Homo sapiens: one gene and its partners. The protein of the gene in region 2 interacts with the protein of the main gene of each other region in a pairwise test. Each region holds a gene or a part of one and is shown on either strand. Other genes may lie near its edges.

Evidence for each region.
Region 1: the proteins of PIAS1 (region 2) and ELAVL4 interact in binary tests that used the Homo sapiens proteins (3 or more experiments, as listed by UniProt).
Region 3: the proteins of PIAS1 (region 2) and HOXD10 interact in binary tests that used the Homo sapiens proteins (3 or more experiments, as listed by UniProt).
Region 4: the proteins of PIAS1 (region 2) and ATXN3 interact in binary tests that used the Homo sapiens proteins (3 or more experiments, as listed by UniProt).
Region 5: the proteins of PIAS1 (region 2) and FXN interact in binary tests that used the Homo sapiens proteins (3 or more experiments, as listed by UniProt).
Region 6: the proteins of PIAS1 (region 2) and APBB2 interact in binary tests that used the Homo sapiens proteins (3 or more experiments, as listed by UniProt).
Region 7: the proteins of PIAS1 (region 2) and TDP1 interact in binary tests that used the Homo sapiens proteins (3 or more experiments, as listed by UniProt).

The regions. Positions count from the first base shown.
Region 1 is NC_000001.11:50,107,774-50,111,719, forward strand, and holds the start of ELAVL4 (ELAV-like protein 4), read left to right. Parts: upstream 1-1,146; 5' UTR 1,147-1,416; coding exon 1,417-1,425; intron 1,426-2,059; exon of another isoform or gene 2,060-2,167; coding exon of another isoform or gene 2,168-2,191; intron 2,192-3,946. UniProt on the Homo sapiens protein: RNA-binding protein that is involved in the post-transcriptional regulation of mRNAs. Plays a role in the regulation of mRNA stability, alternative splicing and translation.
Region 2 is NC_000015.10:68,088,815-68,092,314, reverse strand, and holds part of PIAS1 (E3 SUMO-protein ligase PIAS1), read right to left. Parts: intron 1-3,500. UniProt on the Homo sapiens protein: Functions as an E3-type small ubiquitin-like modifier (SUMO) ligase, stabilizing the interaction between UBE2I and the substrate, and as a SUMO-tethering factor. Catalyzes sumoylation of various proteins, such as CEBPB, MRE11, MTA1, PTK2 and PML.
Region 3 is NC_000002.12:176,115,562-176,119,577, reverse strand, and holds the start of HOXD10 (homeobox protein Hox-D10), read right to left. Parts: upstream 2,801-4,016; 5' UTR 2,745-2,800; coding exon 2,000-2,744; intron 625-1,999; coding exon 347-624; 3' UTR 1-346. UniProt on the Homo sapiens protein: Sequence-specific transcription factor which is part of a developmental regulatory system that provides cells with specific positional identities on the anterior-posterior axis.
Region 4 is NC_000014.9:92,100,083-92,103,582, reverse strand, and holds part of ATXN3 (ataxin-3 reference isoform), read left to right. Parts: intron 1-3,500. UniProt on the Homo sapiens protein: Deubiquitinating enzyme involved in protein homeostasis maintenance, transcription, cytoskeleton regulation, myogenesis and degradation of misfolded chaperone substrates.
Region 5 is NC_000009.12:69,056,252-69,059,751, forward strand, and holds part of FXN (frataxin, mitochondrial isoform 1 preproprotein), read left to right. Parts: intron 1-3,500.
Region 6 is NC_000004.12:41,008,543-41,012,042, reverse strand, and holds part of APBB2 (amyloid beta precursor protein binding family B member 2), read left to right. Parts: intron 1-3,500. UniProt on the Homo sapiens protein: Plays a role in the maintenance of lens transparency, and may also play a role in muscle cell strength. Involved in hippocampal neurite branching and neuromuscular junction formation, as a result plays a role in spatial memory functioning.
Region 7 is NC_000014.9:89,990,427-89,993,926, forward strand, and holds part of TDP1 (tyrosyl-DNA phosphodiesterase 1), read left to right. Parts: intron 1-1,490; coding exon 1,491-1,557; intron 1,558-2,949; coding exon 2,950-3,057; intron 3,058-3,500. UniProt on the Homo sapiens protein: DNA repair enzyme that can remove a variety of covalent adducts from DNA through hydrolysis of a 3'-phosphodiester bond, giving rise to DNA with a free 3' phosphate.

The DNA of each region.
Region 1 (3,946 bases), on a different chromosome or scaffold from region 2:
AAGCATGAACTTCTCAGGTAAGCCACTTAAAAAACCCAAACCAGAACAAAAAATACACTACTGAAGGCTTGGTAGTGTAGAGGTTGTTAAATGTGTAAATAGGCAGACAAACTGTATACCTCACCATACACTTGCTAAATGTCTCTTTGCAAATCTCTTAAGAGGCCAAAGAAAAAAAGACATCCCTTTGAAGGAGAGAAGCAAAATCACTTATTTAGTTAAGCAAAATGAACACTCTGCACAGGTTTTGAAATGAGGCTGTTGTCAAAAGCATGTTTTACCTTTCTCTAAAGGGGTAGGAGAATGTGTTTTAGTGGATTTTTAAAAATTCAGATCATGTTCCTATCCAACTTGAAAAATAAATTCATTTAAGTAAATCATTCATCATCCTCAGTTTTGAAAAGCTCAGACAGAAGGCAGAAAGGTAGAGGCTGACAGCTGCCCCTCCCTTACCCCCACCATTTTTTTTCTTTTTGTTTATTAGGAAATAGTTTTCTGAGACAAACTTGTATGAACCTAGTTCACGGAGCAAGCTTAATCCCCAACTTGCTTGCTTTTGAAATGTTGGCCATGTTAGCTGGAGAAGGAGCATTACTTACTAAAAATCAGCAATATCTGGAAATAATAAAGTTAAATTGTAGATGAATTAGCACATTAAAGTGCTTTTGTTGTACCTTTAAGCCTACAGGCAGATCATTAAATATGCATTTCGCTAGAAAGCAACTGTCTAGAAAGATAAGGTGGTTGAAAATATTCTACGGTGGAAAAGCCCTCCATCAGAGAGGTGGCACGGTTCGGCCCTCAGGATGGGAAAAGAAGGACCCTCCCACTGTTAGTTTAGGTTTGCAAGCCTCCAGTGACCTGCAGTTGTTACAGTACTTTTGAGCTGGGAGGAGGGAAAAGGTAAAAATACAAGTATGGCTGTTGTTGCTTCAGCCGGGCCTTAATTACCAGACACAAGAAGCAGTTCAGAAATCTGGTCTCTGTTGTTGTAGAGGTCACCAAATCATTAACATCGTCAATCTGGCAGTAGCTAATTTAAATAGCACCTGATGTTGCAACGCCTCCCTTCGTTTCCCCAGCCAATCAGATCCAGGCTTCGGCTGACAGATGGTCCCATAAATGGATGTAAAAAGGGGAAGCTTCGAGCCAATTTCAGCAAGGCTCTGTTCAGTTGTTCTTATCTACATCCTAGAATCGGGGGTTTCAGCTCACTGCTCCTTTTCTTTTTTTTCTTTCTCTCCCCCGCCCACCCCCCCAAAAATAATTGATTTGCTTTACAATCATCCACACTGTGTTTTGTGGATCTTTAATTATATATAACAATAGTAGTCATTTTAAATATATATTCTGAAATCTTTGCAAATTTTAACAGAAGAGTCGAAGCTCTGCGAGACCCAATATTTGCCAATAAGAATGGTTATGGTAGGTATGACTAGATTTATAATCTGTTGTTTGTGTTGCTGGAGGGAAGAAAAGCATCTACACCTTGACCAGTCTTATGCTTGCACAAGAGTTTAGTTCTGTGCTGCTGTTTGGTTCCTACATTTACTATCTCTTTTGTGTAGAGAGTGCGGGTAGGTCCTTTTATTGAAAAGCAATGGGGATATAAGATTGTCATTTTTAGCAAGTCGTTGTCAGTTTTCCCTTCAACATAAAGGCAAGGGGTGGAGGGGGAGGGCTGAAATAATTGCTGGTTTATTGAAAGAGGTTATATTACTTGAGACATAATGGCAAAAGAAGGGTTTTCTTTTTTGTAAGGGAGAGGGGGTTTGTCTACGTGCCTGGGTTTTGTGGGGCTGGGGGTGGATGCAGCGGGGTTAGGAATCTCTCAATTTCCGTGCTGGAAATTTAAACCTCGAGAGGCAGCTCCTGGATACTGAACACTGAGATGGGCAGTTGTGTTTCGGGGGACTGCGCAGTCAAAACGGCAAAGAGAGTGATTTATTTGGGCTTCAGTAAATGCTGCATCTTGTATTTCAAAGAGTTTCCTGTCATGACCTCATAAAAAAGAGGAGGCGGCTTGTATGTGTAGCAGTGCCTGGCGTGTTGAGTTGTTGCTTCCTTCTCTGGGCAGCAGCTCTGTAAGAAGGAATGTCAGCTTTTACATAACGTTCCTTTCCGCTTTTGACACACTGTGTGAGGGTCCATCTTCTTCTGATCACAGATGGAGTGGAATGGCTTGAAGATGGTAAGTGAAAAGAGGAAGGCAGCCTGGAGGTCCCAGCCCTGTGTGTGTGTGTGTGTGTGTGTGCTTGTATGTGTGTATGTGTAAGGATGCTGGACTGTGCATCGTAAATCACTGTGCTGATCGTTTGTGTGTGTATGTATGTGTGTGTTTATTAGTATTTCTCTTTTCTGAAAACCAGAATCCATCTCCAAGTGTAATGGCACTGCATGCACACAAGGCACACACACTGCCTCTTCCAGCAAACACACATTTTAGCCAAGGAAGGTTGGTGTCTTTTTTGACAATCAATGTCACCGTCACTGTTGGCTGGCGTGTCCACCGCCTCTGTGAGCCTTCAACGGAATTACACGACTGCTAAAGTTAAAGGCACATTTCTTTTTCAGTCTCATGCTAGGAGTGATGGGGAAGGATGGGAATGAGGGGTGGAGGAGGTGAGATTCAGTACCAGCCGATGCAATTGTGAAACAGGACTTTCGGATGTGGAAGGGGAAGTGGAAAACCTTTCTGCCGAAGTAGTAAATCTATTTTTAGCATCATCTTTTTCTGAAAAAAGAAGCAGGGAAACTCCTTGAGTGCCGCTTCTGTCGCCTGATGTTGACCCTGAAGATATGGCACAAAATGGCATGATTAGATGCCACGAGTGCCCACTTTGACTTTGAATTTTCACCAGCAATAGGTTTCACAAGGTTTCAGAGCTGGGTATGGGGGCAGGCTGTAAATTCATAACCATCTTACTTATTTTTCCCTAGAAAAGCCTGGGGAGGACTTTTTGCTCTGCATAGATGTTATAACAAAGCTGTGGTCTTTTTCCCATTCTTAGAGGATTGCCTTTGTCTGGCTGCTTGTTTTGATGGGTGTAAAACAAATAAGATTAGACCGAGCAGCCCAACTGAAAGCGATAGCTGGGAGGAAAACCCAATGAAAGGTTGCCGGGGAAACGAACAGAGGAGAAGCCGAGTAGGGAGCAGGTGGCTATCATGAGAACACACTGCAAACAGTGTAAAAAAAAAGGGGAGGGGGACAGGACCTCGATTATCTTTGCTGTTCTTTGTGGCCAGCCCAACTTTAATTATTCGTTATTAATAGGTGTTAATTACATTTCTAACTCTGGTTTACAGTGATTTTTAGAAATCTATTTTTAAGCATCTGTTCTGTCTCCCCTGTTTTTGTGTGTGTGTGCGTGTGTGTGTGCGCGTGTGGTTTTTGTTGTTGTTGTTGTTGTTTAAAAAACCCAGAGAGGAGGTGAGGGGGAAGGGAGGGTAGGGAATCTTGCTTTTTTTTTTTTCCTTTTTCCCCCTTTTCCCTGGTGTGAAATTGTACATGCGAAAAATCGCAAGGAATCCTGTGAGACCATTTGAAAAAATGTAAATTATATTGAATGAAGTTGACGGAAGCATAATAGTGAACTCCCACAGCTGATAGGTTCTGCAAATGATTTCTTAGAAATTTCCAGCAAATATTCATAGGAAAAATATAGGTAGAATAGATCTACCCTAAGCAATGATTTGGGGTTAGGTGATTTTGGTATTTTTACTAAATCGGATGTTGATACTATAGTTTCAGGGGAATTCATTGTACCTCTCATTTTTTTCCTCAGTAGAAATTACTTTACAAAATAATAAATGAAGAGCTTTTTGCTTTCCTTCTTTCCCCATGCCCACAGTCACAGGATCCATCAGGCTTGCACTCTCATAACCACTGCCTTCCATTTGGCATTTGGTCCTGATTCTGGTCTTGGCACAAACTGAGTGAAAA
Region 2 (3,500 bases):
CTGTCGTCCCAGCTACTCAGGAGGCGAGGTGGGAGGATCGCTTGAGCCAGGAAGCGGAGGTTGCAGTGAGCCAAGAATGTGCCACTGCACTCCAGCCTGGGCAATACAGCGAGACCATCTCGGAAAAAAAAAGAAAAAAAATAAGTAACACTCATAGTCAATAATTATTATGCCTCATACCAATCAATGAGAAATCTCTAATCAATAAAGACATATGATGTGAACTTATTCAGATATATTGCCTGAGATATTTAAAAACTTGAAAAGACATCCCCTGAGAAGGTAAAATTTGACTTCAATCTCATATAAAGCAAACAAGATGAGTCACCATACTTTTATATGACTACAGATGGCTCGACTTAACAATTTTCCAACTTCATGGTGGTAAGAAAACAATAGGTATTCAGTAGAAATTACTTCGAGTACCTACACAACCATTCTGTTGGTAACAAAACCATTCTGTTTTTCACTTCAGTACGATATTCAATAAATTACATGAGCTATTCAATACTTAATTATAAAACAGGACTTGTGTTAGATGTTATGTCAGCTAATGTAAGTGTTTTAGACACATTTAAGGTAGGTTAAGCTAACCTATCATGTTTGGTAGGTTAAGTGTATTAAGTGCATTTCTGACTTTGGATATTTTCAATTTATGATGGATTTATTGGGACATAACCAGAGGAGTATCTGTAGTCCAAATGAATGCAAAGCTCTCTGTTCTATACATGTTGGCCTTTGAAATAATTAAAAATATTAAAAATATTTAAAAGCACTATATTAAAAATGTATTTTCTATTTGAAAATTTACCTGAGTCAAGGAAGATATAAATAGCTAAACTAGTAACAAATATAAATCTATTAATAGATTTGTTTATACTTAAGTCTGAATCAAATCAAATACTGTATCCTAAAGAACTATTATTTTATTTACCATGAAAGTATTCTGTGTTTTTGCCATTATGTTCTAACAAAGCCAATTTAAACAATAACTATAAACAATATTATAAACTATTTTGAATGATACAGGTATTATTCTAAACAAAACAATATTAAAGGATTGAGAGGAAATATCAAATAATTATCTTGTCCCTGAATGGACAAGATATTTTAATCCAAAATTATTTTTCCTTTTATTTTCATAATTATGTAAATTTCACACCTCATCAACACCAATATTGGCACACTAAGCAATAAGGTATTTCAAACAAAGTACCCCTTAACACATGTGCTCAACATCCTATCAAGATTAAAATTTTCTTCCATTATTTATATGGATCAATAATACATGCGGCTGCCAGGTTACGTGAGCTAGTGAGGTTCTCCTCTCCTTCAAAATGAAACCAGAAATACACACACACACACACACACACACACACACACACACCCGTAAATGACTAACAAAAAGAATACCACAGAAGTATTTTAAAAGTTTATCTGTAAAGTAAGCAAGTAATTATAATTTCTATGGATTCTACATTAAACATAACATTTTTGTAATTAGGGAAAATTTTTTTTAAATGGAGTATATTAAATTTCAAAGACATCAATTAACCTCAGAGATGACAGGATAGGGCAATAAGAGGAAGAATACCATTCTTCCCTACTCTATTTCCCATCCCTATCATAGCCACTGTTTGTAATTACAGAGTGTGGTATGGCTCAGTTGTGTTTGCAAGGTAAAATGGTTAAAATCCACTGAATTAAAATGAAATAAAAGATTCCATCTACTGCATTAAAACGAGTTGGAGAGCTAATAAATGTTTACTGAACTACCATGTAACAGGTTCATATCTAGCTATTATAGGGATTTATAGATAAATGCCTCAGAAGCCTTATCATTTTGAGGAACAAAACAAAAACATTTAATAAAGGGTAAATTAAATGTTAGGACAGCCTGGGCAACATAATGAGACCTCAACTCTACAAAACATAAAAACAAAAATCAGCCAGGTGTGGTGGTGCATGCCTGTGGTCTCAACTACTTGGGAGGCTGAGTTGGGAAAATTGCATGAGCCAGGGAGGTTAAGGCCACAGCAAACCAAGATCTCGCCGCCACATTCCAGCCTGGATGACAGAGCGAAACCCTGTCTCAAAAAATAATAATAATTATTATTATTATTAAATACAATTTAAGTTGGGTGTGGTGGCTGACGCCTGTAATCCTAGCACTTTGGGAGGCCAAGGTGGGAAGATCACTTGAGTCCAGGAGTTCGAGACCAGCCTGGCTGACATGATGAGACCCTGACTCTACTAAAAATACTAAAATTAGCCAGTCATGGTGGCACGTGTCTGTAGTCTGAGCTACTGGGGAGGCTGAGGTGGCAGAACTGCTTCAGCCGGAAAGACAGAGGTTGCAGTGAGCTGAGATTGTGCCAGTGCACTCCAGCCTGGGCAACAGAGCAAGACCCTGTCTCAAATAATAAAATAAAATAAAATTTAAAAAATAAATGTTATGAGGCCGGGTGCAGTGGCTCACACCTGTAATCCCAGCACTTTGGGAGGCCGAGGTGGGCGGATCAACTGAGGTCAGGAGCTCAAGACCACCCTGGCCAACATGGTGAAACCCTATCTCTACTAAAAATACAAAATTAGTCGGGCATGGTGGCACGTGCCTGTAAGTCTCAGCCACTTGGGAGGATGAAGCATGAAAATCACTTGAACCCAGTGGGGCGGAGGTTGCAGTGAGCCTAGATTGTGCCACTGCACTCCAGCCTGGGCTACAGAATGGGGCTCTGTCTCAAAAAAATAAAAATAAAAAATAAATGTTATGAGAGCATGCAGGGAAAGTGAAATTGATTCTGGCTGGGGAAGAAATGTACAGATGAAAGGAGGACAGCCTAGAAAGATAAATGAAAAAGGTTAAAGAAAAAAAGCATTTGAAATAAGCCTCATAGAAACAAACAGAATTGAGATAATGAGAGGCCAAAGTAAACAATAAATTAAACATCTTACTTTACAACCACCTTTTACTTCACCTCTCAATTCTTACAGTTAATTATGGACAATGAAAAGAATACTTTAATTATGGCTCCAAAATAAAGGCCTTAAAATTATTTTAAATTGTTTTAAAGAAATAACAAAATGATCGTAAGAATGAATGAGAATTACCTAATAAAATGGGAATTATCAGAACTACTGTCTTCCATTTTAGTTAGAAATACAAAACCATGCATAAAAACATTCAGTTTACATTTGAACATCTTAAAATCTGTTTAAATCTAGTGCTTAAGGCCACAATGGAAGGGAAAAAATGAAAAAGTAAATGTGCCTGTCCCATTCTGGACTCAGTGATAGTTGTGATCAACTAGCCAGCTGGTGTTCGAAACTATGTTCTCAAAAACTTGATTTTAAATGTATGTACGTTTAGAAATGAAGAGAATGCTGGAAGCTATTTAATTTTCCAGAAAACGTGGTTTTCTTAGATTTAAAACAAATGAACTACCGGCAAAAATAATCATTTAGGAAACTAAGTTATGTGACAAATGTAGCCACTTCAT
Region 3 (4,016 bases), on a different chromosome or scaffold from region 2:
TGGATGGATGGATGCTCTACAGTTCCAATAAGTTAAGACCCAAATGAAAATGCGCAATAATAGTTACCCTGCATTACGATGAAAAAATAATAAATTACACGTGCTAAGTTTTTATATATATATATATATATATATATATATACTCATAGGGATTACAGATCACTTGCAGCACGAACATAATGACCCCAAAGTCACATTCTAGCAGGAAAACAAAATACAACAAAACAACAAACAAAGAGCGGTGAAGGTTTTGTTTCCGCTTTCCCAGTCCTCCAGCACTGGGCCCTGGAACGCGGTGCCCCCTCTCCAATCCTGGCCTCTGACCGGCCTCAGACCGGCCTCAGACCTAAGAAAACGTGAGGTTGGCGGTCAGTTCTCGGATCCGGTTCTCTCGGCTCATCTTCTTGAGTTTCATTCGGCGGTTTTGAAACCAAATCTTGACCTGCCTGTCGGTGAGGTTAACGCTCTTACTGATCTCTAGGCGGCGCTCGCGGGTGAGGTACATATTGAACAAGAACTCTTTTTCTAATTCCAGCGTTTGGTGCTTAGTGTAAGGGCACCTCTTCTTTCTGCCACTCTTTGCAGTGAGCCAATTGCTGGTTGGTGTATCAGACTTGATTTCCTCTAACAAAATTAAAGGGAGAAGAAGAAAAAAATCAAGAGGTTTTTTGTTTGTTTGTTTTTGTTTTTGTTTTTGTTTTGGTTTTGGTTTTGGTTTTCGTTTTTGTTTTTTTCTTCAGACTGTTCAAATGTACCCTTGGCCGTGACCCTGCTGGCAGCCAGGCCGCTTTGGAAAATGCTAGTATTAAACATTACTCACATGAAGTGGGCCTTGGAAGGGAATCTTACATTGATGCCACATTACTTAAATGACATGATGGCAGGACAGTCTGCATTTGGGTTCTCGCTCTCTCTTTCAACTTTCTCACTTGTACAAAACATTAGTAGAATAGTAAACTTTCCAGATCTCCCCAGCAACATTCTAAGGGTTCAGCTCCTAACAGGGACGGAGGGGAATACGCCACGACCTGGACAAGCCTACCAACCCCACTGCTGCCTCAGGTCCCCAAATCTGCCACTTCTTCCCCACCTCTCCTAGGCAGTCAGGAATCCTGACAGTCAGGTTTATAGGTGCCCATTCTCTTTCAAAAGATAAATGGGGAAGCGAGACACCTTCCCCCACCTTGCCTGGGTATTGTTGCATTCCCCAGAATTTCCTTAATTTTCATGTCTTCTTGCCCCCACACTAAAGCATTCCCCCAGAAAGGGAGCCCCCTACTGTGGCCCACCTCTAAGCACTGGGGGAGAGGAGGAGGGTTCCTTCTCAAAAAGCCAGATCCCTGGCTCTTTGCCTTAGCCCAGCCCTAAGGCTGGCCTTGCAGGGAGGGCAATGCGGGTTCCACTCTCCCCCTCCGCCTTTGCCCTCTTTGCCGACGGATTGCAAAGACTGCAGCACTTTTCCTAAACAAAGCCAAGGTTACCTAGCCCAGCAAAGGCAGTAAGCCCTGTTTCCCAACTCAAGCACCAACCAGCCCAGCCATCTCTTTCCCCTCACCACCCCCAAGCTCGCAGGATGCGGGGTGCATACACTTGAACACGAACACGGTGCCCTGGATCACCTTAACATGATCATTGGGCTCAAGGCAAAACTGGAACTGCAAATCTGAGCAGGAGAAAAGAGGCTCTGTGGTCGTGTTTATGAGCCGCAGGTCTCCTTTGCGCTCTTTTGTTGTGTTCAGGTCTAGCTCAGGAAAAATAAAACCGGCAAGCTTTTCCTCTGCCCGGGCGCCATCAGCGTGGGGCCAGGACTGGCGGAGAGGGCCAGGGCAGCAGGGGAGAAGCGGGGACTATCTCAGGGCTGAGATCACCCCTCTAAAACCAGGCGGAGCAGCACCTGCCAAGTCGGGCTCCGGCTCGGCGCTGGGCACCCCGGCACTCCCTCTCTGCCGGGTTCCCGGGCTGCGCGCCCCGCTGGGGTGGCAACTCTGCTCATACCGACCTTTGCTTTCCTTCTCCTGCACTTCGGGACTGGACACGGAGACCTCAGCCAGGCAGCTCCTCTCTTCGGGAAGGCCGCCTTTGGCCTCGGGGCTCTCCACCTGGGAGACTTTGGTGGGCTCCTGGCCGCTCACGGGCTCGTTCATCTTCTTTTCCATCTGCAGCTGGGCAGCGGAGAGCTGCGGCTTGGCCGCGCCACGAGGGTTGAGCTGGAGCATGACAGTGGAGCTGCCTTCGGGGCTATTATTGTACTCTTGGGTTTTCCCGGTGGCGTAGGTCTGACTCAGTCTAAAATATCCAGGGACGGGAACCTCAGGGTTCTCAACGGGACAAGACTCAGGGACCAGCCTCTGGTACGAAGGGACCTCGGCCGAAATGAGTTTGTTGCGCTTATCAGAATACATGCAGCAATTGGATTCTTCCTTAATGTTGGTGGTGAAGGAGCAAGTGGGGACTTGCTGTGTAACAGGTTGCTCTATTCGACAAGATCTGTTCGGATCTGTCCAACTGTCTACTTGAGGTATATAAGGATGCACATTCATACCCATATTTTGGTGGTTCACTTCTCTTTTGGCCAGAGACGGGAGCAGTCCACAGGTTTGCATTCCATAGGTCCCCATGTCTGCGCTAGGTGGTGGCATGTACATGCTGGCGCTGCTGGAATAAAAACTGTCACTCCTGCAGGCACTGATCAAGGAATCTACTAAAAAAGTATTAGCAGCAGGAGAGCTGTTGGGAAAGGACATTTTGGGGAAGAATTTGAAGAAGAGAGATTGTGTCCTTTGTAGGCTGACATCTCTAGGAAAACATTCCCCGTGTAATTGTGGATGCCTCTGCCGACCACATGACAACCAAGCCAATGAGATTTGAAAATGGCCTTGAGCCGCAGCCTCCTCTCGGGTCACGTGCTCCAGAGCCTGGCCGGCCGGCCGGGTAAGCACGGACAACAGCGACATCTACTACGCGCCCGCGATAGTGCGCGCTGGAGACAACCGGCCCAGCGCTCTCCGCCGCCCTCCTGTCCGCCTCTCCAGGGCTCGCTCGGCCAGCCCGCCCCACTCGCGTCCCCCGCTTCGGCCCCTGGGCCCAACCGGCGGAAGGAAAGTCTCAGCTCTAGGGGCCTCCAAGTGGACACGCACGGACGGGGAGGGAAGCCAGAGTGCCCTGGCGCCAGCGCACAGAAGCATTCCCCCCACACACAACCAGGCAGAACGCGCTTAAGAGGGCCGGGTCCAGGACAAGCGGGTGGGGGCGCAGGCTGGTTAATTTAGTCCCGGGCAGCCCAGCGGGAAGGTGAGTCGGATTCCGCGGGCCCTGAGACATCCCACCCCAGGGGTCCAAAGGAAAGATCCCTTGGGGCTAAGAAGCGGCCAAGGTGTCTCTAGGAGGGCGGAGGCAAAAAGGGCCGCGAGGGCCGGGAGGCCAAGCAGCTGGCCGGGCCCGGATCCCCATGGATGGGTTGGTCCCTGCGTTGTCCTCCCGCTCGGTCCTCCTGCCTGGCTCCGGGTTCCTATGCGCCCCGGAGGGCTACACGAGGCTTCGGCTCTCAGAGGAACCACACCCTGACCTCTGCGGGGCCGGACCTCTGGGAGCTTTCAGCCCAGAGACAATTCTTTGCCAGCAGTTCACTATCCGCGAAAGCGTCCCTCGGGCTCCCTGTAGGAGAACTAAACAGAGGTTTCTCTCCCCACACCCTGATAATGGAGGGCAAACAGGAAGGAAGAAAGGAAAAAATAATTTAAGAAAAGGGGAAACTCTGACCCTCAGAATCCAGAAGTTTTAGAAAACTGACTGGGCCAAGAAGGACAGAGAGAAATGCAAAGGTGTCATTTTGGTTCTTCTGCAAAGAAAAATGTTTTCCTTTTATGGATTTTGTAAAAGCACTGGTTTCTGACAAGTGCAAGGTACAAAAGGTTGTGGAATTTATTAATACATATTAAGAAGAATCAGGGCGATCAATAAAATTCTCATCTACATTCTTGGGCTACTTGGTAATTTTCTTGCTTCTGAAGGTTTTT
Region 4 (3,500 bases), on a different chromosome or scaffold from region 2:
GTTAGCACATGCCTGTAGACTTGGGAGGCTGAGGTGGGAGGATTGCATGAGTCTGGGAGGTCGAGGCTGTAGTGAGCCATGATCGCACCACTGCACTCCAGCCTAGGGGACAGAGCAAGATCCTGTCTCAAAAGAAAAAAATGTATATATTTGAATGGATAAAGAGATGGCTTTGAGTTTCTGAGATATATATGGTGCTGTTTATCTAAAGTAAACAAGTTTTCTGTAAATATTTTAAGGCTTTGCAGGCCAGCTGTAGTCTCTGTCACACATTCTTATTTGTGCATGTTTTTCCCAACCATGTAAAAATGTAAAGTGCATTCTTAGCTACTGGGGCAGGTTGAATTTGGCCCATGGGCTAGAGTTTGCCAACCCCTAACTTAAACCTTTGTACTAACTTTATGACCACTACTGGATTTTTGTTGTTGTTTGTTTTAGTTCTGGTGCCTGCTTTGTTTTTTTTTTTTTTTTTAATCCTCTTGCTGATGTTTCTTGGTGCAGTTACTGTGCCATTTGTATTGGTGCTTTTAATGTAATGCAAACTGGTAATAATATCTAAACTTGCTGGGGTTGTACATAAAATTATTGAAAAGATTGAAAAGATGCTGAGCATTGACTCTGTGGCATTCATTATGCCCTTTTGTGATTGCTGGATTTTAGCCATCTTTAGGACATTTGAGCTTTAGGAGAAGCCAAATTCTGTATAAATGACTTGAAGTGCTAATAGCACAGGTTTTGAAACCTCTGCCTGGGTTTGAGTCTCAGCTCTGCCTTTTACTACCTGTGTGATCCTGAGCAAGTTACTTAGTATCCCTGTCCTCTAGTTTCCTCCTCTGTAGTGTGGGGATAATAACATAGACATAACCTGAGAGTTAGAGTGTAGAGAAGGCTCCCTGGCAGATAGTGCTGTAGAAGTACTGGCCATTGCCATTACTCAGGTGCTTGTGTTTGCTGAACCTCATAGTAAGGGCTCGGAGAGCACTAAGAGGAGGTGAGAAATGCTGCTAGATTGACAGCTTGTCCCCAGATAGCCCATTCCCGAGAGCACCTTAGGTTTATACCTGATTTGTGTTGTAGTTAGTAGTGTCTCTGGTAATTTGAACTAGTTTCAGGTTGGTCTTGAAAACCTGGGGAGGTTGGGGGTAAATGATTTGGTAGCAGTTCTCTTTTGTGATTTTATACATTATCTTTGTAGAACTGCAGTTTGCTAATTCTCTGAGCCCAACACAATGAAGTCTGGGCCTAAAATCATAGAATTTCTTTTATTTTTTTTTTTGTTTTTAATTTATTTATTCCCTCCCTCCCTCCTTTCTTCCTTTCTTCCTTTTCTTTCTTTCTTTCCTTCCTTCCTTCCTTCTTTCTTTTCTTTCTTTCTTTTCTTTCTTTGGAGTCTCACTCTGTCACCAGGCTGGAGTGCAGTGGCACGAACTTTCTTCAGAGTCTCACTTTGTCACCAGGCTGGAGTGCAGTGGCGCGAACTCAGCTCACTGCAACCTCCGTCTCCTGAGTTCAAGAGATTCTCCTGCCTCAGCCTCCCGAGTAGCTGGGACTATAGGCATGTGCCACCATGCCCAGCTAATTTTCTTATTTTTAGTAGAGACGAGGTTTCACCATGTTGGCCAGGATGGTCTTGATCTCTTGACCTCGTGATCCACCTGCCTCAGCCTCCCAAAGTGCGGGGATTACAGGCGTGAGCTACCACGCCCAGCCTATTTTTTATTTTTTGAGGCAGAGTCTCACTCTGTCACCCAGGCTGGAGTGCAGTGGTGCAATCTCAGCTCACTGCAACCTCCGCCTCCTGGGTTCAGGTGATTCTCCTGCCTTAGCCTCCTGAGCACCTGGGACTACAGGCGCCTGCCACCACACCTGGCTAATTCTTATATTTTTAGTAGAGGCGGGGTTTCACCATGTTGGCCAGGCTGGTCTCGAACTCCTGATCTCAAGTGATCAACCTGCCTTGGCCTCCCAAAGTGCTGGAATTACAGCCATGAGCCACCATGCCCAGCCAAATCATGAGATTTCAATACCGCTGAACTTTGATTATGGCAAAGTGAACTTCTGCTTTGATTAAAGCTTGATGAGAGAGGTGGCTGGGGATAGTTTGAGATAAGGGCAAGGCAGGAAAATGCATAATCTTACGTGGGCTCATTGTCATTGTACAATTCTTTTGGTCCATGTGGAATTTGATCCGTCCTATGACTTAAGTTATGTTTATTTTTGTTTTTATTTTTATTTATTTTGTGTCTTTTTGAGAGACATGATGTTGCTCTGTCACCTGGGCCAGAATACAGTGGCACAATCTTAGCTCCGTGTAGCCTTGAACTCCTGGGCTCAAGTGATCCTCCCACCTCAGCCCCTCAAACAGTTGAGATTATAGTATGAACCACTGTGCCTAGCCTTAAGTGATTTTTAAATTTGTACTGAACAGTTTGTCCTTTCCTTCCATTAAATCATATTAGAAGTACAGAACTTGATATTTCCTGTAGCAATACAGTTTTTCTTTGATGAAGTTTGATTTCAAGTACTTATTTTTCATAATTTAAAGCTATTTTTTATAGAGAGAATTTTAATCAAATATTTGGATGTCACTATTGCTATATATGGTATTAAGTATGGTGACCATAGTTTGTAAACTCCAAACTGACAGCAAGACAGGAAATTTGTGTTAGCAAAGGCTTTTTTCTTACTGTTTGAATTTTTTAAAAATTAGATACAATACAGAGAGGAGCACACAAATCATTAAGAGTACAGCTCAGCGAATTTTCACACAGTGAACATGTGTAAACAGCAAGTAACAAAAGATTTACCTGCATCCTATAACCTCCCATTATTCCCTTTTCTAGGTACTGTCTCTCCACTGCATTCCCACCAAATATAACCACTATGCTGAATTCTGACATCATAAATGAGTTTTGCCTGATTTTGAGCTTTTGTGACTGGAAGTGTACAGTGTATATACCCTTTCGATTCTGTCCTCTTTAGTTTACCATTGTTTGAGAAATTTATCCATACTGTTCCAGAATTAACTACTGTTAATTATTGTTAATTAACTACTGTTGTAGTTAATTCATCCTCATTGTTATCTAGTATTCTTTTGTGAGTAAACACAATTTCCATTCTACTGTGATCCCAGCTATCCATTTGGGTCGTTTCCAGTTTGGGGTCCATTACAAATAGTAATGCTATCTGTAATGCTATTTTGTATTACTACAAATAGTAATGCTATTTGTGGCACAAAAATACTGCTTTTGTGAACATTCTTATACATGTCTTTTGATGAATGTATGTTTGCATTGCTGTTGTTTACATTATGTACCTAGTAATGGAATTGCTAGATCATAGGAGATGTATATATTAAGCTTTAGTGGATGCATTACATAATTATTAGTTATTATTGGTTATACCAATTTATCCTCTCATCAGTAGTATACAACAGTTTCTGTATCTCTAATCTCCAACATTTTAGCCATTTTAGAGTTTGTGTACTAACACATTGTGGT
Region 5 (3,500 bases), on a different chromosome or scaffold from region 2:
TCTGGCCATAACTGAAAAACAAGCACTTCCAAGAAGGGGCAAAGGGAACATGAATTTATGCTGAGAGGCGTAGCTAAGCATACATATTCAACAGATTATGGGAGGATCTATGAATATTCACAAAGGGAGGATCTATGAATATGCACACATGTGGAGTAAGCTAACGTGTGCAGCATGTCTCCCATGTTCACCTTAGGCAGAAACTTAACACTAACATGTATTACAGGGCAACAAAATGAGACTGCATATCTACATAACCTAGCTATTTGGTAGGCTGAAGCAGGAGCATCACTTAAGACTGGGAGTTCGAGGCAGCTGTGAGCCATGATCGCACCACTGTTCTCCAGCCAGGATGACAGGGCAAGACCCTGTCTTAGACCACTCTGTGGTCAGTGGTTATCAGGAAGGAATGCTAGTCAGTTGTGCTGAAACCACTAAAAAGGAAGGGCAGAATTAGGTGATGAGTTGATACCAGTGGTGAAGTGAGTCTTTTTTTTTTTTTTCTTTTTGAGATGGAGTCTTGCTCTGTTGCCCAGGCTGGAGTGTAGTGGTGTGATCTCAGCTCATCGCAACCTCCACCTCCTGGGTTCAAGTGATTCTCTTGCCTCAGCCTCCCGAGTAGCTGGGATTACAGGCGCCTGCCACCACGCCTGGCTAATTTTTTTATATTTTTAGTAGAGACTGGGTTTTGCCATGTTGTCAGGCTAGTCTTGAACTCCTGACCTCAGGTAATCCAACTGCTTTGGCCTCCCAAAGTGCTGGGATTACAGGCAGCTCCAAAGTGCTGGGATTACAGGCATGAGCCACCATGCATGGCCTGAAATAATTTTTTTGAAAGGGCTAGTTTCTATTTAGCCCTTAGGGGAAAAAAAACTAATGGCAGTTAGGGAGGGAATAGAACGAGTCCTGTTTGAACTCCTTTCCCATCATGGCCAAAACTTAAAATTTTTTTTAGATATCTCTGGGCTCCCCTTGGCCAAAAGATAGTTTGTTGAGTCAGTTGGGAGCTTAGAATTTTGTTTTTATTTCTCACATCATTGAATCAATTTGAACCAGGCGACAAAACCTTCTGCTCCCAGTAGTGGGTCAGAGAACCTTCCTGATTCCTGCCCTGAGATTGTCTCTCTGAAGACAACATTAGGCTAGTAGGCTTTCCAGATTCTGTAACCCATTCTTTCAAAGGAAGAGATGCCTATATTTTTCTAGCCAATTCATATACCTTGAGTATCACTCAAGGGCAAAATTATTTCTAACAAATCATTTACTAATTAGCAAATGCTTAAGTGTAGATTTAGAAAGCTAAAGCTATACAGTGGCTGCCATCTATAGTTTGGACTTGTGATTAACTACATTGAAATGCTAACTCTGTACCCTAGAGTATGAATTCCTGATTAGAGTCCTTCAGGTGCTAACTAATTTATGTATTTCATGTTTGATAATATTATTACTTGAGCTTTGTGGGAGAGCAGTCTTTTCCTCCCCTGAGATATAGCTAGAAGTTACCTCCTTTGTGAAGCCTTCCTAGATACTCCAAGCAGACACGGTCCTTCCTTTCTCCCTTGCCCAGCACTCTGAGGTTGACTCTGTGGAGCACTGATCCCTCTGTGTTATAATTGTCTATTTACACGTCAGCTACCACCTATAACACACTGAGTTCCTCAACAGCAGGGACACTGTCCATTCTTTGATCCCAGTGTCTGGAACAGTGCCAAGTACATAGTAGGGACTTAATAAATATTGATTCATATGTAAATGAGACTTTTCCAAAACATGCTTTCGTTGATGCCTCTCAGCATTTATACACCTTTTACCAACTCGCTACTGGCCACATAGACAAATGAAAGCAGTAATCCAGATACACCCAAGAGGACATCTGTTCTTTTTTCTCTCTGTGGAGTGGGAGACTTAAGTGGCTTCTTAACTGGTGTGTCGTCTGATCAAGTGGTCCAGGTAACAGGTGGATGCCAATGTCTGGCCCAGGCATCACCCCTTACTGGCACTGGTCATTACAGAAGACACTCTACCAGAGCTGAAAGGACCTCTTGTCACTAGGCAGCTGTGGAGTCCGCTCTACTTGACCTAGTAAAATCTGCCTGGAGACTGTTAGAGTCACCCCACTACCTGAAGTTACCTCCAGGCTGACCTCTTTTTTTTCCCAGGTGGAGTCCTGGCATCTTAGATATTTTAATAAGGATTTGCTTGTTGACATGTTCTTTATTCACTAAGGTGTCAGCATATTACTGTCTTAGAACTGAGGGTTCTTCATCTTTTTTGGATCAGGACCTCCCTCTAAGAATCTGATGACTGCTCTGGTCCCTCTCCCAATAAAAACTTCCATACTCACCTGTTAAAAAAAAAAAAAACTTTAAACAAATTAACAGAGTTTTATTCAGCAAAGAATGATTCATAAATCGGGAAGGCTGCAACCAGAATAGGTTCAGAGAGACTCCACGGTGTGCCACGTGGTTGGAGAGGATTTAGGATTTATGCACAGAAAAAGGAAAGTGACATGCAGAAAATGAAAGTGAGGGCCTGGTGCTGGTGCGGTGCCTCACGCCTGTAATCCCAGCACTTTGGGAGGCCGAGGCGGGCAGATCATGAGGTCAGGAGATCGAGACCATCCTGGCTAACACGGTGAAACCCTGTCTCTACTAAAAATGCAAAAACTTAGCCGGGCGTGGTGGCAGGCACCTGTAGTCCCAGCTACTTGGGAGGCTGAGGCAGGAGAATGGTGTGAACCTGGGAGGCGGAGCTTGCAGTGAGCCAGGATCCCGCCACTGCACTCCAGCCTGGGCGACAGAGCGAGACTTCATCTTAAAAAAAAAGAAAAGAAAAAGGAAAATGAAAGTGAGGTACAGAAACAGCCAGGTTGGTTACAGCTTGGTGTTTGCCTTAAACTTGGTTTGAACAGTTGGCCGCCTTTGATTAGCCAAAACTCGGTGATTGGTACAAGAGTAGATTGCAGTTCACTATGTACAGAGAAGCCCTTAGATCCGAACTCAAAATAGGTAAGGAGGCAGTTTTAGCTACACTTAAGTTAACATACTCAGGAGTACCATTCCAGCTTCAAGCTGGAAGTGTCTGCAGCCCCCTGAGACCACTTAATCCCAAGTTAAAAACCCCTGCTCAGAGGCAGCATCTTTTTTTTTTTTTTTTTTTTTTTTTTTGAGAGAGATCTCACTCTGTCACCCAGGCTGGAGTGCAGTGGCACGATCTCAGCTCACTGCAACCACCACCTCCTGGGCTCAAGGGATTCTCTTGCCTCAGTCTCCCGAGTAACTGGGATTACAGGCGCGTGCCACTATGTCCAGCTAATTTTTTTTTTTGTATTTTTAGTAGAGATGGGGTTTCACCATGTTGGCCTGGCTGGTCTTGAACTCTTGACCTCAAGTGATCCACTGGCCTCAGCCTCCCAAAGTGCTGGCATTAGAGGTGTGAGTCACTGTTCCTGGCCCAGTGAGGCACCATCTCATTGGATATGGAGACAAAGGATCTGGCTT
Region 6 (3,500 bases), on a different chromosome or scaffold from region 2:
AAAAAATTAGTTGGGCATGGTGGACGGTGGCATGTGCCTGTAGTTCCAGCTACTCAGGAGGCTGAGGCAGGAGGATCACTTGACACCAGGAGTTCGAGGCTGCAGTTAACCATGATTATGCCATTGCCCTGTAGCCTGGGTGATCGAGCGAGACTCTGTTTCAAAAAACATAAATGTATTTTTAAATGAATAATTAAGCTGCCTCTTCCCTTCACCCCAGCCCCCTTTCCCAGTGATGACCATTACCTTATGTTTTTATTTCCTCTCAGAAAATGTTTGAGTCATAGATCCGCATATTAATAATAAATTTTAAGACCGGCATGATGGCTCACGCCTGTAATCCCAGCACTTTGGAAGGCCAAGGTGGAGAGATGGCCTGAGCTCAGGAATTTGAGACCAGCCTGGGCAACATGGTGAAACCCCTTCTCTACTAAAACATTAAAAATTAGCCAGGCATGGTGGCGGGTGGCTGTAGTCCCAGCTACCTGGGAGGCTGAGGCACAAGAATTGCTTGAACCTATGAGGCGGAAGTTGCAGTGAGCCAAGATCCCGCCACTGCACTCTAGCCTGGGTGACAGGCGAGACTCCATCTCAAAAAATAAAAATTAGGCCAGGCGCAGTGGATCACCAGGTCAGGAGTTCAAGGCCAGCCTGACCAATATCGTGAAACCCTGTCTCTACTAAAAGTACAAAAATTAGCTTGGTGTGGTGGTGCGTGCCTGTAGTCCCAGCTACTCGGGAGGCTGAGGCAGAAGAATTGCTTGAACCTGGGAGACAGAGGTTGCAGTGAACCGAGATTGTGCCACTGCACTCCAGCCTGGGCAACAGAGCGAGACTCCATCTCAAAAGAAATTTAAAAATAAAATTAAATTAAATTAAAATTAAAAAAAAAAACAATAATAATCAATTTTAAAATTTACCCAAATGTTGTGATGATGTTTTTAGAATCCCTATGTTTTAGAGATATATACTAATATAAAATACTAATCTATGTCATAGTATAACATATATAATACAGTATAACACATACTGATGGAAACAATATTGTGTATGGTATTTTCTCCAAAATAATTGGGATTAGAAGGATAAAAAAAGAAACAAAATTGCCCATAAGCTGCTGATTGTTAAAGCTGCATTATGGGTACGTGCGGGTTCATTATTCTATTCTCTAATTTTGTATGTTTAAAATTTGCCACAATAAATAGTTAAAACCAGGAAAAAGTTACTCCAATTAGATTGTTTTATGAATGCTTTGCTTTTTTTCACGTAAGAACGTATTTTGTAGATCAGTCCATTTTTCTACGTCAGTCTTTTTAAGTATTATGTATACTATTCCACTATATACAAGTTCCACGATTTATTTAGCAAGTTCCCTGCTGATGAGTATTTAGGTATTTCTGTCCATAGCCCCTTGGCTTATTGAGTGCTGGTGTCAGTAGGGGCCTGTGGAGAGGGCAAAGTTTGTGCACTCCAGTCTACCTACTGGGACTCTTGAAATGTACACGTTAACTCCCTCTTTCCAGGAAGACTTTCAGGGGCCCCTCTGCTGTGACACTTACCACTCATTTGCTCAGTGTCCTGACATTACTTGCTGTTGGGTTTCCACAGAACATCTTACAGTGCTTGGCCTGTGATGAGAACTGGATTAGAGTTTTTTTTACATGTTAAGAAGATATGCTTAGTTTTCTCTCTGAAAGTTGGTTTTGACAGGATGATGGTGGCCCTTGATAAGTTGCTGAGGATAGGTATTTCAAATCAAATATGCTCGAAAAAATGTATTAGCTGTGACCGAAAAGCAATGAGATTGTGTTTTTAAAAAATATACTAGAAGCCAAACCTATGCCAGCCTTCAAAATGTTCACTTGGGATCTCTGCACCTGCTTCAGCATGTTGCACTGTCTCAATATTAATAGTCATAATTTTGGGAGTCCTCTTTTGGAATTGCCTCAGAGTCTGCTGTGGATCCCCATGAAATGAAATCACTTTGCTTTAATCACACTTCAGGTTTCAGGTAATACATAGATTGGTGAATGAAATAAAATAAGCAGTTTTTTAGCATTGTATTTCTTTTGATTTCATCCTTCCTGTGAAACATACTGTTAGTGTTTAAAATAATCATGATCAGTCTAAATTAAACATTGTATGTTTCACTTGTAATGATAAAGTTAGTGTTTATTATGTATGTTTTATATAGTATATACATGTGTATGTGTATATATATAAAATAAACACAAATACCAACAGTTGAAAGAAAAGAGAAAACGAGAGCAAATATCTTGTGACATCTTAGTATGCCATGCCATAGTACATGTATAAAAAGGGTATAGTTGTCTGTTGACTTGCTGTGTGTTAAATACATAGTCATCACAGTGGTGTGTGTTTTATGACTAAATCATGATGCAATTATCTTTGGATCGTAGACTGCACTTTGGGGAGCCTAGAAAAATAGACTCATTTCTACCTCAGGGGCATCCTTTCCAAGTTAGAATGCTATTTATACAATAAAATGCAATGGCTAACCTAGAGACTGACTACTTTCTATTTTCCTTTACTACTGAATCGCCCCCTCCAGCTGTTTAGTAACTTCTTTTTGTACAATCAATCATGTATACAATATGTGGCTGCCCTTTTCCTCCTCTGTAGTCTGTCCTTTAAGAAAACAAGAGGCTATTTGAAAAAGGAAAAGCATCTGTGAAATGACTATTTTCATAGGAGTTTAGAAAAGTTAAAGAGTGCCTTGGCCCTGATTCTAAAAGAAAGGTTGTATCTTGCTACTGCAAAGTGAGAACTTTGAATCTAGTTAGGGTTTTTTTCAAAGATACAGTTCCCTCAGTGGCCCCAGGTAGTAAGCATGATGGCTCAGATAAATAAATACCTGTTGGTCACACTGTATATAGTCTCTCTGTTAATCACTTAGTGTTTCATGTTTGCTTTATGAAAACGTTGAAAAGATGCATCATTTTGAACCTTCCTGGGTACAGGTTTCAGTGGTACCCACATGTAATTTTATGTTTAGTTTGGGATTTAATAAAATTGAAGACACAGAGTATGAAACTAGATGGATCTTGTGTAGTAACTGTTTCAAAATCAGATTCATTGCTAAAGTGTACAAAAGCAGAATTATACACAGAGAAAACCAAGTCCCAAGTCTAGATGGGTGTGGCAATGCGCCTCATGATCCATTAACTTATCATTAAGAGCATAGGCTCTAGAGTGAGCTTCCTGAGTTCAAATCCCAGCTCTGCTATATCTAGGCAGTTCTCATAGCCTCTCATCTATAAAATGGGGATAAGAGTGTTTTGGCATAGACCTGCTGTGAAGATTAAGCGAGAGCATCTTCAAAGAGCTTTTAGGAGCAGTATCTGGCATATAGCAAGAGCTCAATGAATATTCATGATTATTATATTAGAGACAGTATCAGTACAGTGGTGTGTTATAAAAGTTTGCTTTTCTCTTAATTATGAATTACCTATATTTTGGACTCTGAGTTACGACTTTCT
Region 7 (3,500 bases), on a different chromosome or scaffold from region 2:
TTGTTGATGGCTGAAAGCAGAATGCACTGAATTAAACTAATTTAGTCCATTTATTGCTTATCAGGCTCAATAAGAAAAATCTGCCAGGAAAATTTCGCTAGCGTTTGGAGTGTATTAGCCCTTTTTTTTTTTTTTTTTTTTTTTAATGGCAAAACCAAAATTACTTCACCGAGACCCAGGGATACAGTGGTGGTTTTTCTTTGGTACTCTTTTTGTGCCTCTAATAGGCTAGATTCATTCAAAGTGTACTTTTAATGGGGGAACAACATGGTATTTTTAACAAAGTTGTTTTATAACTGGCTTTGAAACTGAATGTTTTTAGTTATTTGAAGTTGAAGACAGGACATGCCCTATTTGATATGTCAGAGATGTTTGGATATAGATCTCTTTGGGTGTAGATCAGTGTGGAGAAGTTCCAGCATGTGTGTGGAAAGTCACTGATAATCCACTGTGGAGTTTTCTTCATTTTAAAAATGAGCAAGCATTGACTTCTAATTGTATTTCCACTTGGAACTTTCTTTATTCTCTTTGCAAGAATAAGGCTTTTAGAATTCCTTTTTTCAAACTGAACTGTTTACTGAACGTTTTGTTTTTTAGCCATTCTTTTCTGTTTGTCAGAATCTGCTCAGCCAGTACAAAGTCTGTTTGGAAATAGTGTGTAAAGGTGAAGTAGAAGGGGCACTGACATCTTGTCCTAGATTTTCCTCCCCAAGTCCCACGGTCTTGGGCAAAACAGAGGCTGTCCAGCTGTGTCTTATTTGCATAAGGAGGGTAGGATGGGCCAGGATTCTAACACTTCAGATCTGTGCAGGTATAGATGTTAAATTATCATCACCAAGTAATTCAATTATAATTTTTTGTTTTCAAAGTGTACTTTTAATGGGGAACAACGTGGTATTTTTAACAAAGCTGTTTTATAACTGGCTTTGAAACTGAGTGGTTTTAGTTATTTGCAGTTGAAGCTTTTGCAGGAAAAAGCTCTATTCTGCTTTACTTGGTGCGTTCTCGTCCTCAATGAGGTAATTTACTTTTATTCTCGACACAGAAGAATTGTAAATAGTCCTTACATTCCTGATGGGAGAAATCTTTTTAATGTGTTCATAATTCTTGCTCTGAATGTTGAATGGGTTTCTAAAAAGTGATTAGCGAGTTGTCATTAGTTTTCAGTATGTTTGTGTTACATGAGCCTTATTTAAAGGCATCCCATGACTATACTTCGTAAAGTATATGATCATCACTTACTTTTGCTTATAAGTCTGGATGTTTATAAGATTTGCATAAAGTTAATACTGAAGGAAGGAAACCTCGTTAAGAGAACATATCTAGTGCAACTATAGACATTTTCTTTCAAATAACTATTCTATAAGATGAAGTAATAGAAGTAGTTTTTTTCCTGTTACCTTCTTGCTGTTTATTGTAGATTTTCCTCTTAATGAGGGATCCTCAAATTATATTTCATAATTTTTATTGTTTTATTTTTCTTTTAAAAGCTGGGGGCTCTCTTCCCTATAGCATCCAGACAGCTGAAAAACAGAATTGGCTGCATTCCTATTTTCAGTAAGTAATTGGTTTAGACTGCTGCTATTGCTTCTTTAGGAATTAGAGTGTTATTTATGTCACTGGTTTGTTTTTTTTTTTAAAAGGAACTTTATGTAATATAGCTATATTCTTTCATCTACATATGTTAGTGATAGAAATAATTTAAAACAAGGTTTTGAATTTTTTTTGGAATAGGTTTTTAATACCAAAGAGGAAAATTTATTGCTGTGAGGTTTCTATTTAAATATTGGCATGCCAAGAAAGACAAATAGAAGATCATGTTGGGTAGTTTAGAATTTACATAAGCAGCATTTTAGTTCATTTTTCCAAAATATAAAGTATCATTATTCTGTCTGTACCGTCACACATGCAGCTGCAAGCTTGTTGAGGGCAGATTCTTTGCTGCCGTTTCCTGAGGATACAGGACAGTATCTGGCGTGTTGTCAGAGTTCAGTAAATGCTGAGTGGACAAGTGAAGGGAATGTCCTTCACCCTCCTCCAGCCACAGCAGTTGCACAGCCTGCATATGCAAGGCCAGTCTGTTTCATGCTTGTCTCAACAGGTGTTTGCTGTGCTGGTTAGCCAGAAATGAAAGCAGAATTACTTTGAATTATAGCTTTCAACTGTAAGTCAGTGTGTAATCCTAGAGCTTTTCTTTAGTGCTTTCTTGAGAGGTTTTTCCTTACAGAGGACATTTCTTTAAATTGAACTCATTTAAATATTATATTATTAAATTCACTTGAATGAAGACAGTGATGGTACCTACCTAAACCTGATTCTGTTTTCACAGACCATCTGTTAATCTGGAGGGACCATCCTCTTATATTCATAAGTAAAGATTGTTGCTTCATGATATAGGTTCCCATAGAACCATAGTCTGCAATATTGGAAACTTAGAAACCAAACTCAGATTTGTGAATGTCAGCATTTGACTAAAGTATTTCTGCCCTCGCTTTTCAACATTCATTTTTTTCATATACTGTTTGTATTTTGCCTTTTTTGTATTTTGTTTCATTCAACAAGCTTTTGCTGAGCCTCTACTCATAACACACCGTGGAAGCATGATTCTTCCCTTTAAGGAGCTCACAGTTCAGGCAGGAGACATATACACACATGCTGTTAAAAGCACAACAGAAATAATATGTATGCATGTATGTATGTTCATGGCAAAAATGGAAAGGCTATATGCTGAAAGGTTGCAGTGCTTCTTGTGAAAAGTGGGAAGTTTATAATTCTAAAATGGGCATGCGTTACTTGAATGGAGTTTCATAAAATCTCACAGGTCACAGAGTCGTGTAGCCACTGTTGATTTTTAGATAATAGGCTCTTTGTTTTCATGCAGTTTCCTAATATTAGGATTATGATCAATTTTATTTCATAATTAGTAACTTTTGTCTTTTCTGTCACTAGCAAATGGTCAGCTGAGACTTCTGGCCGCAGCAATGCCATGCCACATATTAAGACATATATGAGGCCTTCTCCAGACTTCAGTAAAATTGCTTGGTTCCTTGTCACAAGGTAAATAGTCCTTACATTCCTGATGGGAGAAATCTTTTTAATGTGTTCATAATTCTTGCTCTGAATGTTGAATGGGTTTCTAAAAAGTGATTAGTGAGTTGTCATTAGTTTTCAGTATGTTTGTGTTACATGAGCCTTATTTAAAGGCATCCCATGACTAATCCCTTTGTAAAGTATATGATCATCACCTACTTTTGCTTATAAGTCTAGATGTTTATCAGATTTGCATAAAGTTAACATTTACTTCTGTTATTTAATACCTCAATAGGGGTTATGCAAATTGACATTTGGGGTAAGTACAGAAGAATAATGAAATGTTAAAATTAATATTTTTTTCTTAATTAGTTTCTCCTTAGGTAATTGAAATCTGAAGCAATCAAATCTCTTATGTGTCCTTTTCTAAAACATCTTTAAGGTGTAATTCACGTACCATAAAATCTGCC